Linked DNA regions of Homo sapiens. The protein of the gene in region 1 interacts with the protein of each later gene in a pairwise test. Each region holds a gene or a part of one and is shown in the gene's direction. Other genes may lie near its edges. The genes, in order: ORM1, TMEM37 and BLVRB.

Region 1 (3,746 bases):
CAGGCGCCTGCCACCACGCCCAGCTAATTTTGTTTTTGTATTTTTAGTAGAGATGGGGTTTCACCATGTTAGCCAGGATGGTCTCCATCTCTTGACCTCATGATCCGCCCGCCTCAGCCTCCCAAAGTGCTGGGATTACAGGCGTGAGCCACCGCGCCTGGCCGACCTGGCTAATTTTTAAATATTTTTGTGTAAAGATAGGGTCTCACTATGTTGCCCAGGCTAGTCTTGAACTCCAGGACTCAGGTGACTCTCCCATCTTGGGTCCATTAAGCTTTTAACTACAAACTACACTGAAATATGAAAGTTATTCAGAATGAAATGAATAAGAATGCAAAATTATAATCATACCGTAAGAATACTTTCTGAGTAATCCCAGCACTTTGGGAGGCCGAGACGGGTGAGTCACCTGAGGTCGGGAGTTCCAGACCAGCCTGGCCAACATGGAGAAACCCCATCTCTACTGAAAATAACAACAACAAAAAAAATTAGCTGGGCGTTGTGGAGGGCACCAGTAATCCCAGCGACTCAGGAGGCTGAGGCAGGAGAATCGCTTGAACCCAGGAGGCACAGGTTGCAGTGAGCCGAGATTGAGCCATTGCACTCCAGCCTGGGGGACGGGAGTGAAACTCCGTATCAAAAAAAAAAAAAAATGAATACTTTCTGAAAGTATTTATTCATACAAATAAAGACTTGACCCGTGAGGTAGGAACACAAATGGGCCACGGAATCACTCATTCCACAGAATATACCGAGTGCCCTTGAAGTGCTGGGCACTGCTCCAGGATTGGGGGCGTATTGGTGAAAGAGAAGCAAGCTGCCTGCTCAGATGGCAGGGAATGGGGGAAAACAGGGAGACAGTTTCCTGTTTGAGATGTTGGGAGATGCTTCGAGTAGTATATTTACTGGAAATAGACATTCAACTTGGATGTCCCTTTTTGGAAATGTGCCTGCGTCCAGGGCTGGGTTGGGGCCCCAATGAACTTTGGCTCTGACACAGCTGTTGCCACACTCAGTGGAACTGAATCTATGTTTGTCTTCCCCGGCATCCTTCACCCCAACTCTCCCCGCCACAACATACATCCCATGCCAGCCTGGGGACCCTCAAAGGTGGCTTCATCATTAGGTTTGTGGCTGGGTCCCACTGAAGTAAGTCTTGGCACTCAGAGGGATAGGAATTGAATGAAGACATGAGATTCCTCTGCGGGAGGCCTCTCTAGGAAATCTGTGGACTCACACGTTTACTAATGTTGCTGCAGCCCCGCACCCACCTTGGCCTTGGGCAGCCATACTCTAGGGCTTTTGTAACCTCTCCATGTGAGGAACTCAAATTAGACCTGGGTTTGGAGGCGGTGCTCCGAGCTGGCCTTTGGGGGAGGTTTTGTGCGAGGCATTTCCCAAGTGCTGGCAGGATTGTGTCACAGACACAGAGTAAACTTTTGCTGGGCTCCAAGTGACCGCCCATAGTTTATTATAAAGGTGACTGCACCCTGCAGCCACCAGCACTGCCTGGCTCCACGTGCCTCCTGGTCTCAGTATGGCGCTGTCCTGGGTTCTTACAGTCCTGAGCCTCCTACCTCTGCTGGAAGCCCAGATCCCATTGTGTGCCAACCTAGTACCGGTGCCCATCACCAACGCCACCCTGGACCGGGTGAGTGCCTGGGCTAGCCCTGTCCTGAGCACATGGGCAGCTGCCTCCCTTCTCTGGGCTTCCCTTTCCCTGCTGGCTGTGGTCGGACCCCCACTCCCGGCTCTGCCTTTTTCTCTTCTGGGTCCCCAGGGTGAAATTCTCACCAGCCCAGGGGACTCTGGAGGCACCCCCTGCCTCCAAACACAGAAGCCTCACTGCAGAGTCCTTCACGGAGGACGGTTCTGTGCTGGGCCTGGAGGGGCTGCCTGGGGGGCAATGACTGATCCTCAGGGTGAGCTCCTGCATGCGCACTGCCCACCAGGGGCCTCATCTCCCCATCTGCAAAATCAGGGAGAGATCTGCCTGAGTCTCCTCCCAGCTGACAGTCAAAGATTCAGCATCAAGCCCCCATCACCAGCTCCCACCTTCTCCCCAGATCACTGGCAAGTGGTTTTATATCGCATCGGCCTTTCGAAACGAGGAGTACAATAAGTCGGTTCAGGAGATCCAAGCAACCTTCTTTTACTTCACCCCCAACAAGACAGAGGACACGATCTTTCTCAGAGAGTACCAGACCCGGTGAGAGCCCCCATTCCAATGCACCCCCATCTCAGCTTCTGGCCAGAAGACCTGAGCAAGTCCCTCCTTCTTCCTGGCCTTGGCCTTCCCATGGGTGGAACCGGGAGGGCTGGCTTTAATCTCCACCAGACTCTTGCCCCAGGACTGTGATGGGCGATTGGCCACTTCTCAATAATCTTCCTGTTTTCCTTCCGCCTTCTGTTTGGCTTTAGACAGGACCAGTGCATCTATAACACCACCTACCTGAATGTCCAGCGGGAAAATGGGACCATCTCCAGATACGGTGAGGGCCAGCCCTCAGGCAGGAGGGTTCACTGTGGGAACAGGGCAGGCCAGCATAAGGTGGGGGCTGGATGTAGAGCCCTGGAGGCTTTGGGCACAGAGAAATAACCACTAACATTTTTGAGCTCTAACGATGTGCTCAGAAACAACTCTAAGAGGACACTGAGAGAATTAGAGGAGGAAAAAGAAGAACAGAGACCTCAAATAGTTTCCCCAAGGTCACACAGCTTATAATTAGAACTAGAATTGGAACTCCAGGCTGGCTTCAGATCTGCCTCTCTCTCATGCCCTCTTTAAGATCCTTTGCAAACCAATGGTAGAAGCCTGTATGTTGGAGAGGTGGTACCTTCAACTATGTCCCCCATCACCGCAGAGGTGGCACATGGCAGGGAGCTGATGGAGCTGAACTGACACCATTTAGCATCCCGAGCCTCCTCTCTGGGCCTCATTTTCCTCATCTGTAAAACGGAGAAAGGCCCTGACAGCCACGGTCTGTGTGAGGCTCCTGAGATCTCATGTACAGAAAGTGCTTGGCGTGGAGCTGGGCATGCAGCAGGGGCTGGGCACACGGTGGCCCAAAGGAGCCCTGGGCCTTCACTGATGGGCTGTGTGGCCACTGACACACCTAGGCCTCCTCACCTGTAAGACAGACACCATTGTGCCATCCCATGTTCTCACCCAGAGGCTCCTTTTCTCTTCCAGTGGGAGGCCAAGAGCATTTCGCTCACTTGCTGATCCTCAGGGACACCAAGACCTACATGCTTGCTTTTGACGTGAACGATGAGAAGAACTGGGGGCTGTCTGTCTATGGTAGGCATGCTTAGCAGCCCCAAACTCATGCCCCTCTCAGGCCTCACCCCCCATTCACCCACCCCTGGGCTGGCCCCTAGAACCCCAGCCCTCCCTGGCCTCCCGCCGGGCCCCACCATGTCCCCAGTCAGTCTCCTTGCTCCCCCTGCAGCTGACAAGCCAGAGACGACCAAGGAGCAACTGGGAGAGTTCTACGAAGCTCTCGACTGCTTGCGCATTCCCAAGTCAGATGTCGTGTACACCGATTGGAAAAAGGTAAACGCAAGGGATTGGACAGTGCCCACCTTGTCCATGGCCCAACTTGGGCAGCCCCAGAGGCCCAGAGCAGGAGAGCTGCCAGGCAAGGCTGCACAGCTAGGCAGATCTTCTGCTTTTAGGCACCTGCCTCACTGTAGGGACAGCTGAGCTCTACAGAGGCCCAGGGGTGGTGGATGAGAGCCCAGGA
Region 2 (3,746 bases), on another chromosome or scaffold:
TCTGTTTTAACAAACCTTCCAGGTGACTCTGGTGCAGAATGGTGGCAAGAACTCAAACCTGGACTAGGCCTGCTGGGTAAGTGGAGTCCCAGCTCTCCAGTGGACTCAATGTGGGTGGCCTGGGCCAAGCCTTCCTGTGCCTGGGCCATTTCTCCGTTTGTCAAGCTCCAGGACTGGGGTAAAGGATTTGACAAGGTCTGTTGGGCAGGGATGGAATCAGATGAATATCTAAGTGGAAGATATACAGACAATTGTAACTACCCCTCTTTCTCACATGGCTCTAAAGGGGAAAACAGATGAGTGCAGTTGCTTTGTCTTTGGGTAAAGTCACCAGGAGCTGCCTGCCTGAGTGAACCAGACAATTTAATGTGTGCCATTTAGTGAGGGGCCTTGTTTTACCACCACATTTGAGGATGGGGGGAGGGAAGCCTTTCTGTTGGAATTTGTGGCCCTTGGACACTCCTCCCACCTCCACCCTTTTTGGCGGTAAAAGCTTTTAGGTGCTGCCTCTTTAAGAACTCAGATCCGGCCGGATGCGGTGGCTCATGCCTGTAATCCTAGCACTTTGGAAGGCCGAGATCGGTGGATCACCTGAGGTCAGGAGTTCGAGACCAGCCTGACCAAAATGGTGAAACCCCCGTCTCTGCTAAAAAATACAAAAATTAGCAGGGCTTGATGGGGCGCGCTTGTAATCCCAGCTACTCGGGAGGCTGAGGCAGGAGAATCGCTTGAACGGGTTTGAACCCAGGAGGCGAAGGTTGCAGTGAGCCGTGATCGCGTCATTGCACTCCAGCCTGGGCCACAAGCGCTAGACAACGTCCAGAAAAAAAAAAAGAGAGACCTCAGTTCCCATCGAGGTGGAGAAAAAATAACCACATTTGTTTGGCATATTTGCATTTTTAATAGTCCCTGAGGAGTTCAGGAGGAAACAGGGTTTTACATCCCCTTTTAGGGACGCAAGTAGGATTGCCCCAAAAAGTTCCACTCCGTTCACACTCAGCGAGGGCCCGGCAAGAGCCCCACCTTTCACATTCATTATTTCCCTTACTAACCGAGGCTCCGAGACGCTAAACAAGCAGCCCAAGGTCACACCGCAGAGTGAGGGCAGCAGAGCCTCTGCGCCTGCCTCCTCCCTTCGGACCCTGCCGCGTTCCCAGAGGCTGGACTCAGCAAGCTGGAACAGGAATCGAACCCTCAGGCCCTCGTCGCCGTCCCAGCCCTCGAGGAATCTGCGCCCCAGGCGAAGCTGTCCTCGGAGGTTCGGGAGCGTCGGAGTGACTTCCCGATCCTTTCCCCTGGGACCCGAGGGATCCCTCCCCCCAAGTGCCGGGTCCTCCCCGCGGCTCCCCAGGGGCTCCTCCGGCCGCCCTCGCTGACTCAGCGTAATCCGAGCCGCGGAGGGCGGCGGGGTTGGCGGAGCCCGCCCGGGGTTAATCGCCGAGCTTTGAACGCCCCCTCCCGCCCCGCCCGCCTCCAGCAGCCGCCCCGCCCCTGCGGAGAAGTCCCGGGCTGGCGCCGGCGGCCACAGCGGAGCAGCTGGAGCGATCGAGGCTGCAGCGCGGCCGCCGGGCGCAGCATGACTGCCGTCGGCGTGCAGGTAGCCGGCGCCTGGCGGGGCGCTGACCCGGGGTGCTGCCCCGCCGTGGGAGGTTGGGGGTGGGAGGACGGAGGGAGGGGCGTACCCACCGCGAGCGCCGGCGTCGGGCTGGGGGTGCGAGCGCCCCCCGTGCCCGCCCCCTGTTGCAAACCTGGGTCCGGAGGAGGCTGGGCGGGGAGCAACCTCGGGGGGCCTGCCTGCCTCACATAGCTGCTCCCGAGGCGCGGACTCCGGCTGCTTCTGCTCGCGGCCTTGCAAGCACCCGAGGCTCCCAAACTTCATTTGGAAAGATTTTTCTTCTCTTTGGTGTCACCAGTGACTTACTGGTCAGTTTACCATAAGGGTCCCCCTTTGTGAGAAATGAGGCGCGTCTGGGGTGGAGGGACAGAATCGACTTGCAAAGTGAGGCTTATGTAACAGAGGATGCGTCTCTTGGGAAGTTAGACCTTTCTGGGGGTGGAGGTTAGGAAGACCGTCTCCCTCCCCAAAGCTGCGTTTGGGGTGCTGGGCTGGGGGTGGACTTGCTGAGTCGCGCGGACACCTCAGGGAAAGGCTCTGGCGAGGGAAGAAGCCCGTGTCTCCGAAGATTTGGCTTCTCCTTAGCGTAGTGCACGATGTTTATGTTGGCTAAGAACCTACACATTCCTACCCGCTCCCTCGGGCCTGCTGCTCCCCAAAGGGAAGTCAGTGGGTGGCGGTACCGCTGCCCAGCGGGCGAACTTCCTTTCCGCGCAACTCGCCCGCTGCAGAGTCTATCCGCTGGACTGTCTCCAGGATTAGAGAGGCCCGTTGACTTCGTGTACAAACGCTCAGCCACAACACTGACCTAGTAGACACCGTTCTGCCCATTGTATAGATGAGGTAACCGAGACTCAGAAGTAAGGTGCCCTCCGTGGCTGGCCAAGGAACAGAATCAAGATTCAAACCCAGGGCTTTCTGGCTCCAAATCCCACTGGCTCCTCCTGCCTTTACCTAACGGGAGAAACCCCACCCACAGGACACCCCCAAAACCGCTTCTATAGCCAGGACCTAGGCACCTGGGCGAAGCCGGGCATGGGGCGCAGGGAATTCCTCCCCTTTGTTCTGGGGGATGTCTGGAATCCCGGCCAGGCAGCATGGTGGGACAGACCAGGTGCGGTCCCTCCCCTCTAGGAGCTTACAGCCCATGTAGGGAGAGAGACTTGGAAACAGGGCATGGGGGAGCGAATGCTAAATTAAGAGGTGCAAAAGTTGCCAGACGGGGAAGAGGAGGAAGCCTGGTAGCAAGGTGGGAGCTCAGCTGGGGAGGCCACAGGCTCCAGGTGAAGGGCGGGTGCTCCGGCCGCTTCGGGATGATAACTCTTCATCCCCACAACCATGACTTGCCAGGGGGCAAACACAGGTAGGAAGCAAGTTCTGGGTCATGCAGGCAGCGGTGGGCCAGGCTGCAGCTGAGAGGAGCAGAGGCAGGCCGGCTCATCAGGAGGCTGTGAACTTCCAGGATGTTGACGATGGTGATGGCCTCACCTGGGTAGGGGCAGAGTGGGTGATGAGGGGGAGCAAATATGGGAGACATGTTGGGGATGTGCGGAATGAGTTGGGAGGAGCTTAATTTGTCTACCTGGGGGTGCTTTGGTTAAGGGGAACACATGAGGCCCTGGGTTATAGGAGGAAGACCATGACATTGGACTCAGTAGCCCAGTAGTGTCAAGTGACCCTATTCTATAGGTCACTAGAAATCATGCAAGGTTACAGATGAAAAAGGAAAATGCTTACATTTTTAGCAGAGCAGTTAAGCTCCAGAGAGATTTAAGTGATTGCCTAAAGGTACCCTGCAGGGGTCCTCTAGGTCAGGGGCAGGACTTGACCTCCCCGCTCCCTTCTTTTCCACTGCACACTTGTCCAGCTGCCCTCCAGTAGCCGTTTCAGGCCCTGCATCACTGAAAGCTGGTGGAGATGCCGGGTGGTTAGGAATGAAGACTCTATATGTGTTATTATTGTTATTAATATTAATAGCTACCATGAGTTGGGAGCGGCCCGTGTACCATGCATCTTTATATACAGGATCTCATTTGATTCCTGGGAGTTTCAGTGGTGGCCAGAGAGTTTAAATGAAGCCCTACTTTGGGGCAGGAGCGGGAGGAAACTAGATGAGGTCAGCTGTCTCCAC
Region 3 (3,746 bases), on another chromosome or scaffold:
CTCCGCTGCTCGCCGCGACCGACCGCCCTCCCTGTCGGCGTCCGCTGCCCGGCCCGGCCCGGCCCGGCCCAGCCCGGCTCAGCTCGGCCCCGCCGGCCCGCGGCTCAGCCAGATCCGCATGCGCCGCCGCGCCTCCCTCTCTCGCGCCGCCGCCGCGCTCAGCGCGCCCCCGGGACCCCCTCCCGCCCGCGGTCCCCGCGCCCCGCCGCCCGAGGCCCACGCGCAGTCACACCCGGCCGCGGCGTGGGGTGCACGGCTGCACTCGCGAGGGCACGGCGGCGTCACGCGCTGCACACTCCCACGGGGTCACGCTCGCCACGCTGCCATACTCGCGGGGGCCTCGGCGCACAAACTCACCCCCGCATCCACGCGCTTGCGCGCCGTCACTCCCTCCTGTGGGGTCTCACGGGGTCACACCCTCACGCCGTCACACGCGGCGTCCACACTGGAACGGTGTCACCCACCACCACACAAATCCAATAGGGTAACCACCGCCCACGCGGCGTCACACACAAATGCACCTGTCACACACAGCCGCACACTCCCCGGCAGTCACAAACAGTGTCATAGGCCCACACATCACGCACAGCTTCACAGCCACAGTGTCACACACTCTACACACTCGAACCTTCATAGCAGTCGCCCCGCACATGCTGCACCGCCGCACCTCACACATCATAGTCACAGGGGGTCACAATGAGCAGCTCAACACAGACACCCACAGCCACACACTCGAATGGGGTCCCGGTGTCACACATCCTTACACGAGACATGTGGTGTCACACACTGTCACAGTCTAATTAGTCTCACGCTTCCATGTAGCACACCTCACACGTCCCACACCCTATCGTACAGGCTGACGCAGTGTCACCCACGGTGTCACCACAAGGTCACAAAAGAACAGAATCAATGCCTGCCACACGTGGTGTCACGCACGTGTAGTCACACTGTAACACGGGATCACACTCAGAGGATGACACAAGGTGTCACCCACAGTCCTGCTTGCCCTCCGGGTCACTGAGTCACACAGGGTCATATAAGTGCATAGGTACGCCGTGACACAGTGTCTTACATCCAAGTGCACACACACACTCTGTCCTCCTAACTTTCTCCCCTTGCTGGTTCTGGGAGGCCCTGGGGCTTAGAGTGCGCCCCAGATCCGCTCCAGGCTCCGGGAGAGGGGGCGTGAGCTACGAGAGGCCGTGGGTGAGGCTCGCCTGGCCCCGCCCCTCTCCGGGAGGTGGAGCGCGGAGGCAGGGCGCTGAGTGACAAGTTATCTCGGCTCCGTCCACTCTATTTGTTGCTATGTGGAGGCGTGGCCTTCTGTGGCCCCGCCTTCCAGTCTAAGTGGCGCGCAGAGAGGGCGGTGCTGGACGGTGAGCGAATGCAAGCTGACGCCTGCCCCGCCCATCCGCGTTAGGCCCCGCCCCTTGACCTGAGCCGCGGGCGGAGAGTCTGAGGCGTGGCCCTTCGAGCCAGCTCCGCCCCGTTGTTCCTGGCTTGAGTAGGGCAGAGAGCACCGCCCAGCAGCCAGTGGGTTCCCGCGCGTGCCGAGACTCTGAGGCCTTGCACCCCCACGATCCCGTACGATGGCCGTCAAGAAGATCGCGATCTTCGGCGCCACTGGCCAGACCGGGCTCACCACCCTGGCGCAGGCGGTGCAAGCAGGCATGAGCCGGGGCGGGCGGGGCATGTCACGGGACAGACGGGCAGAACTTTAGGAAGGGGCACCATGGGGTCGGGCCGAGGCTGATTGGGGCCATGAGCGCCCCAGCCAGGTGTATGAGGACTCAGGGGCCAAAGCAAGTGGCCACGGGGGCAGAAATGGGGAAAGATGTGAGATCCAAGTTTATGTGAGTCCAAGCCAGAGAGGAATTGGCCCCGGGAGCCCCGGGAGGACTCCACTGGCACAGTCGTGTGTAAGTCCAGGGCTCTTATGCAATGCGGTTGTCATTATTGTGGTTGTGGTGGTGGTTGTTCGCACTCCCAGAGAGGATTTACTAAGCCAAGCTTGCTCTGTCGTCTCTTCACATGAGAGCTTTCAAAATGGGGTGGGAACTAGTATCACCCTACTTGACAGATGAGAAAACTGAGACCCAGAGAGTGACTTGCCCAATATCACACAGCTGTTAACTGACAGGACTGGGATTTGAACTCAGCTCATGCTCTTAACCACCACAAGTCCCCAGGCTGGAAACTGAAAAAGTTGGGGGGTCAGGTTGCTGCGAGTACCTAATGGGAAGGAGTCACAGAGAGACATGAGTGAAGACTTGGGGACAGCAGTCCTGGGAAAGTCAATGAGGGCTGAAAATTTGGAGTTGCCCCAGGAGAGAGGGCAGAAAAGGGGATAACCATCCCCCAGCACTCCCTGCCCCCACAGCCCAGACTTGACCAACTCCCAGCTGGGCCTGGGACTTCCAGATATGGGGCCCCACCCTTGCAGGCCTTGGGGACGCTGAAGATATTGACTATCTGCGTGCCCCAAAAGGGTGGAGGCCAACAGGACCCCACTCTGCTGTCTCCCTTGGAGGGACTCTGAAAGTTCTTCTCTAGGTCCATAACTCTCCCCTTCCCCAGGGAGACCACGTGAGGATCTTGACTTGTGGAGAATGGGGAGCTGTGGGCCTCTCAGTAAAAACCAGTTTGCTGATAAGCATTTATTCGGGAGTAATGGAGAAGGAAGTAAGAGAGAGAAGTTGAGAGGCGCTGAGTCACCTGGAAATCCACTAATTCCACCGAATTCCACTCGCCCACCCTGCTGGTCATAGCTGGGACTGCACTCAGAGGGTTAAGAACTGGAGCCTAGGGAGCTTCAGAGCTGTGGCTCTGAAAAATCTCTTCCCAGCTCTCAGCTTTGCTGTCCCCCTCAGCAAAGGGAAGGGCTGGCCAGGCACGGTGGATCATGCCTATAATCCCAGCACTTTGGGAGGCCAAGGCGGGAGGATGGCTTGAGGCCAGGAGTTTGAGACTAGCCTGGGCAACGTAGCAAGACCCCATCTCTACAAAAATACAAAAAAAAAATAAATTAGCTGGGCGTGGTGATGCATGCCTGTAGTCCCAGCTACTCAGAAGGCTCAGGTGGGAGGATTGCTTGAGCTCAGGAGTTCAAGGCTACAGTGAGCTGTGTTTGCACCACTGCACTCCAGCCTGGGTGACAGGGTGAGACCCTGTCTCTCAAATTTAAAAAAATACATAAAAAGAAAGAAAAAGAGGCTGGGTGCGGTGGCTCACGCCTGTAATCTCAGCACTTTGGGAGGCTGAGGCAGGTGGATCACGAGGTCAGGAGTTCGAGACCAGCCTGGCCAATATAGTGAAACCCCGTCTCTACTAAAAATACGAAAAATTAGCCGGGCATGGTGGCTGGTGCCTGTAATCGCAGTTACTTGGCAGACTGAGGCAGGAGAATAGCTTGAATCCGGGAGGCAGAGGTTGTGGTGAGCCGAGATTACGCCACTGCATTCCAGCCTGGGCGACAAGAGTGAAACTCTGTCTCAAAAAAAAAAAAATTAGCTGGGCACAGTGGTACGTGCCTGTAATTCCAGGTACTTGGGAGGCTGAGGCACAAGAATCGCTTGAACCTGGGAGGTTGCAGTGAGCTAAGATTGCATCACTGCACCACTGCACTCCAGCCTGGGTGACACAGCAAGATGAAAGGAAAGAAGGAAGGAAGAAAAGGAGGGAGGGATGGAGGGAGGGAGGGAGGGAAGGAAAGAAGGGAGGGAAGGAGGGAGGGAGGGAGGGAGGGA

Evidence for each region.
Region 2: the proteins of ORM1 (region 1) and TMEM37 interact in a two-hybrid assay, tested with the Homo sapiens proteins (one large-scale study listed by BioGRID and IntAct).
Region 3: the proteins of ORM1 (region 1) and BLVRB interact in a two-hybrid assay, tested with the Homo sapiens proteins (one large-scale study listed by BioGRID and IntAct).

The regions. Positions count from the first base shown.
Region 1 is NC_000009.12:114,321,597-114,325,342, forward strand, and holds the start of ORM1 (alpha-1-acid glycoprotein 1 precursor), read left to right. Parts: upstream 1-1,501; 5' UTR 1,502-1,537; coding exon 1,538-1,651; intron 1,652-2,066; coding exon 2,067-2,209; intron 2,210-2,421; coding exon 2,422-2,492; intron 2,493-3,193; coding exon 3,194-3,301; intron 3,302-3,452; coding exon 3,453-3,556; intron 3,557-3,746. UniProt on the Homo sapiens protein: Functions as a transport protein in the blood stream. Binds various ligands in the interior of its beta-barrel domain. Also binds synthetic drugs and influences their distribution and availability in the body.
Region 2 is NC_000002.12:119,430,328-119,434,073, forward strand, and holds the start of TMEM37 (voltage-dependent calcium channel gamma-like subunit), read left to right. Parts: upstream 1-1,526; 5' UTR 1,527-1,576; coding exon 1,577-1,597; intron 1,598-1,745; exon of another isoform or gene 1,746-1,923; intron 1,924-3,746. UniProt on the Homo sapiens protein: Thought to stabilize the calcium channel in an inactivated (closed) state. Modulates calcium current when coexpressed with CACNA1G.
Region 3 is NC_000019.10:40,463,532-40,467,277, reverse strand, and holds the start of BLVRB (flavin reductase (NADPH)), read left to right. Parts: upstream 1-1,532; 5' UTR 1,533-1,589; coding exon 1,590-1,668; intron 1,669-3,746. UniProt on the Homo sapiens protein: Enzyme that can both act as a NAD(P)H-dependent reductase and a S-nitroso-CoA-dependent nitrosyltransferase. Promotes fetal heme degradation during development.